Regions from separate parts of the Homo sapiens genome. Here region 1 is linked to region 2. The links come from fine-mapping of genetic effects on gene expression. Tissue or cell type: whole blood. Region 2 holds a variant in brackets; the other region holds the start of a gene. All regions are shown on one strand. Distances are between the middles of the regions.

Region 1 (2,686 bases), 49 kb before region 2:
GAGGATGCAGTGAGCAGAGATCGCGCCACTGCACTCCAACCTGCGTGACAGAGCGGGACCCTGTCTCAAAAAAAATAAAATAAAGAAAAAATCCTAAGGCCATATACAGGCTCATTCACTTTGGGTCTCCTTTCATCCAGGCAAGCAGCTTTCTGTCTTTGCATTTTCCAAAGACTACAAAGCAGGCTGGGGTGGGGTGGGGTGGGGTGTAGAACACAGGAAACGCAGCCAGTTCCCCTTCACTTCTCACTATCTTGATCTCCTCCCAAACCAAAATCCTATGTCTTTCCTTTTAACATAGGCTTACAAAAATGCAGTTTTCTGTGGGAACATTGAGGTCATGCATTCCAAATTACTTAAGGGAACGATTTTTAAATTTTAGGAATCTAGTTCTCCAAGATATCCCGGCTTGGGATATAGATGAACGAGCTATTTGGGAGAGATTTAGACGAGAATGAATTTTAGAGAAGTAGCGAGGTGAGGAGAGAGTCAGCTTAGCGTTTGGGTTTTGCAGTCAAATTTCAGCAAGGCGAACTAACCTCGCTGGTCTTAATTTTCTCATCGGTAAGAGGGAAAATAATAATGCTTACTTTGATGAATTACTTTACTTCAACATTTAAAAAACCGACTCTCCGTTATCTATTCTAATGATAAAAATATAGATAGAGCATCGTCCCCTGCTGTGAAAAATCTTATGAACAAGTGAATTGCGGTGAGGATTCACATAGTATGTGCTCAATAAACATTATTTTATTGTTTAGATTAGAAGAGGGGTGGAGGGAGAAATGAAAGTGGTTTGGAAACCCCAAACACTACCAAAGCCCTGGGGATGGAAGTAGAGAGGAATTTCGGGTTACGATTTGGTTCCGGGTCTGAGTTTCAACGTTGAATTCTCCCATATTTGGGCCTGAATTCTCAGAACAGAATAGGATGTAAGGGCTGAGATCATCTGGTACAGTTTTATGCAAATCGAAAATTCTTGCCTCTTGTCACTGTGCCCTGGCGAGAAACAACACCTCCACCCAAGCTCATCCAATCTCAGCCCCAACTAGGTGACGTCATCTCCCCGCCCTGCATCCCCAAGCCTCGGGGAGTCCTGTCTCTAAGCTACAGTCCCAGCTCCAGTCCCAGCTCCAGTCCCAGCGGCGCCTGCGCACTTTGGACCGGGGCGGGGAGGACGCGTGCGCGCCGCGTGAGGGCGGGGCTAGTGCGCACGCAGCCTTAGCTCCTTCCCCGCCCTTGCTCTTCCCAGTTTCTCCGTCAGCCTGCGGGTCCCGGCTGGCGGCTGCTTCCGGTAGGAGAGCGGTGTAGAGCGAGCAGGTCTCAGCTCCTCGTCATGTCATACGGTCCCTTAGACATGTACCGGAACCCGGGGCCCTCGGGGCCCCAGCTCCGGGACTTCAGCAGCATCATCCAGACGTGCAGCGGCAACATCCAGCGGATCAGCCAAGCCAGTGAGCCGGGGTACCGAGCTGGGGGGCGGGAGCTGTCCCGGGGACAGGCCTGGGTGAGGCTGCCGGGACGCAGGGCCCGGCTGGGGCTACGGCCGAGGCCACACCTGGGGCTGTCTCGGGCTGTCCACCCTGGGGGCGGTGGGCTGCCATCCCCCAATCTGTCAGGCCCGGGTTGCCCGAGGGTCCCCGGCCCCAGCTGAAGCTTGAGCTGCTTCTCTGGAGTTCTGCCCCCACGGTGCTGGGACCAAAACAGCCGACTTGACAGCCCGAGGGTGGGAAGGGGAGTGTGTGTCACCTCGAGAGCTGTGAGTGCGTTGACTTGGCGCAGTGGTCAGCCGAGTTTCTCCTGTCACCCACCTTCCTCCCCACCCACCTCGCTTTCCTCTTAGACCAGTTTGGATGGGGTTGTTTACTGATTTAGCCTTTAGGTTTACATTCTGCTCAGCCCCTGGCTCCTCGGAAATCAGCAACTTTCAATTAAGGGAAGTGGAGAGTGCATGTGTTTGGGTGACTTCATACACAGTTCTTCCTGTAATGAATTCGGAAATCAGACACAATGACTGGTATTTGAAAGGTGGGATGACTTCATTTTAATAAAGAGAATTCACCAACAGCATTTCAATTTACATTATTTTGTCTTTTGTAACAAATAATTGGGGTGTATTTTTGGATTTCAGGCAGATGAGGCTTTTGTTTTCCTTCCCTACTTAGCTGCTCTTGAACAAATCTGGTACACAGGGAAGCTAAGACACTTAGCCACAACCACATAGCAAGTAAGGCATGGTAGAGTTGTTGGTGGAATTCAGAATGCTATTGCTTGTCTTAAAACTCCCTCCTCCCCATTAGGGTCTGAGTGAAACTGTAGCTGAATGAGTCAAATACAGGGTGTTTCTTGTGCTTGAAAATCATCTTGGAGCCTTATAAACAGGAGATCAGCAGCAGCTTTACTTGGAAAGAATGGTGGTCATCATCCTTGTTGTTTATTATTGTTTTGTGAGCTTGGCGTACTCTGTTAATAGGTAGAACTAGTTAGTCCTGAATTACAATTATATTCTATATTTTAAAGAGTGTCACTTTGCTTTCGTTTTTAAACTTTTAAAAATTTTTCTTTTTTGTAGAGATGAAGTCTTGCTATGTTGGCCAGGCTGGTCTCAAACCCCTGGGCACAAGCACTTCTCCCACTTTAGCCTCCCAAAGTGCTGGGATTACAGGCGTGAGCCACTGTGCCTAGC
Region 2 (2,686 bases):
TGAACAATGAGAACACATGGACACAGGAAGGGGAACATCACACTCTGGGGACTGTTGTGGGGTGGGGGGAGGGATAGCATTGGGAGATATACCTAATGCTAGATGACGAGTTAGTGGGTGCAGCACACCAGCATGGCACATGTATACATATGTAACTAACCTGCACATTGTGCACATGTACCCTAAAACTTAACGTATAATTAAAAAAAAAAAAAAGAAGAAATAGCATTTCAGTTGTTTTCCGTGTTCCTGGGATAGCTGTATTTTACCTGGGAGTGCTCGTAAAGAAATTCGTATTTAATAATAGTGTTTCCTTTAAAAACTAGGTGATTAATTTAGTGTCCAACAGTAAAGGAATAATTAAGTAAATTATATACATCCACTCATTGTTGCATATGGGAATTAAGAGATGTTTCTGAAGAGTTTAAACAGAAAAATGTTTATACTAAACATTAAGTGAGGAAAAACATCAAACATCATACAATGTGATCCAGTTATGTCAAATAATATACATAGATAACAAATCAGAAAGAAATACAAAAATGTTGACGGTATTATCTATGGGTGATTTTTTTTTCTCCCTCCGCTTGCTGTATTTTTTTTTTTACAATGAACATAACAGTTTTATACGTATTATAAAATGTTATTAAAATACACATGCACAAATAACTTATTTTATTGCAAATAATGCCTGGCAGCACAGGTATAGTTCCTTTGCAAAATTGTATGTGGGGACTTGGAATTAAAACTTTGAAACCTATACTACTCGGCTGGGTGCGGTGGCCCACGCCTGTAATCCCAGCCCTTTGGGAAGCCGAGGCAGGTAGATCACTTGAGGTCAGGAGTTCGAGATCAGCCTGGCCAACACTGGTGAAACCCCGTCTCTACTAAAAATACAAAAACTAGCTGGGCATAGTGGCACACGCCTGTAATTCCAGCTGCTCAGGAGGCTGAGACATTAGAATCACTTGAACCTGGAAGGTGGAGGTTTCAGTTAGCCAAGATCGCACCACGGCACTCCAGCCTGGGTGACGGAGTGAGACTCTGTCTCAAGAAAAAAAAAAACACCAAACAAACAAAAAACACTTGCACTACTACCTAGTGCTGCTGACTTAAGATTTCTGGGAAAGTCTGTGCATAATTTTGCATGGATAGAGTTAATCTTTAATTACAAGGAGGCAGATTTATGAAGCATTCTTAGAGTCTTACACATACAAATTTTACTTGTTTCATGAGTATCTTGTTTACATATTTCTTTCCTCAGAAAAAATCTCGCAAGAAGATGTGTATCCTGGTGCTTGTCCTGTCAGTGATTATTCTAATCTTGGGACTTATTATCTGGCTAGTTTATAAAACGAAGTGATTGCCTCCGATCGTTCTCCCGCTGAGCTGTTTTCAAGGGCAAGTGCTTGTTGAAGTCTTGCCAGAACAAACTGATCACAAGAAGACAGCATATATCAGAACGTCCTGTAATCATTTAGTTAGAAACTAACTACTAACTAGTCTTTGGAATTCGTGACCTATGGAGACAGTAATTATCAATTTATTGATTCTATTGATTTCTCAAATTAGGAATTAACTTATGTGGATTTTGCTTCCTCTTGTATTCTGATTGCCCTTCATCCCAAGTGTTTACTGAAAATTCC[A/G]TTCTAGATATTCTTGTTTTGACAAATGACACTACAGTCTCGTAATATTGTCTTTTATGTATATACAAAATTTACCTTTTTACTAGCATCTGAGATAGAGTTACTTTCTGGTACCCAGTATATTGGAGTCTGTCAGAAACTCTATAATAGGCCACCAGTTTTTATTATTTAACATTTTTATTTGAATTTCTAAGAAGCCTATTCTCTATCTATTTTGAAAGATTTTGGCACTATATTTAATTGGAAGGTAAAATATTGTACATGTGATCCAGAGTAAATGAGAAGTCTCTATCTGAGCTGGTCAGTTACTGGAGTACATGTTACTAATCTGGGTTTAAAGTTTACTTCATTATCTGCTAGTGTCATCCACAGCAGTTCATCCTCATCCACACTAAGCCATCCTGTTAGCTTTTAAAGGAAGTTAATTTAATTAACATTAATATACTCTATGGGCTCCCTCTCCCACCTGTCTGCATAGAAAGGCAGAATTAGACATAGCATGCTTTGGAAAAGCAAATAGGAATTGTTGGGAATGATTTAATCTTGTTGTTGTTGTTGTTGTTGTTCACTTGTGGTTCTACATTCCTGGTGAATGATGAATGTTGCTGTCAAAGGGCTGCCCCCTACCTTATAAGGGTTGCTGGGCATTTGAAGGCAGGAAGATTTTTAAAGATAGATTGAGGTTGGTTTAAAATTATTCCTGTAAACCAACAATAAAGCAAAGAAGAGGTTCATTTTTGTAAATAACACTGGTTTCAAATAGTGATGTTAGACTTAACCTAATTTATAAACAAGAGATTAATATCTCCATGCATAGTTTTAGACAAAAAAAGATGTTTCAATAAAATTACTGTCTTGTAATATAAATGTTGTCCACTTCCCTTTTCCACAGGCCTAGAACAGTTAAAGGGAACATAATTTGTTTAGGCTCCCACATAAATGTGAATCTGGCCAACAACTTTGGTTCATCCTTTAGTGAATTAGAGGATTTGGCTACCCTGAGTATATTTATATTCATTTCTTCTGTTCTCCTTCTGTTA

Evidence for each region. PIP is the estimated chance that this variant, and not a neighbour inherited with it, causes the effect.
Region 1: STX12 starts here. The variant in region 2 is fine-mapped to the expression of STX12 in whole blood (INTERVAL, PIP above 0.99).

The regions. Positions count from the first base shown.
Region 1 is chr1:27,771,972-27,774,657 of GRCh38, forward strand. STX12 (syntaxin 12) reads left to right here and starts at 1,248. Exons shown (of 9, transcript NM_177424.3): 1 at 1,248-1,454. The coding sequence starts at 1,337. RefSeq lists enhancers at 968-1,117, 1,084-1,584, 1,238-1,387, 1,585-2,085 and a silencer at 1,498-1,707.
Region 2 is chr1:27,820,967-27,823,652 of GRCh38, forward strand. It overlaps STX12 (syntaxin 12), which reads left to right. Exons shown (of 9, transcript NM_177424.3): 9 at 1,265-2,686. The coding sequence ends at 1,363. Among named protein-coding and RNA genes, the nearest start is that of PPP1R8, 8.5 kb to the right of the region's middle. The variant A/G (reference allele first, on the strand shown) is at 1,647.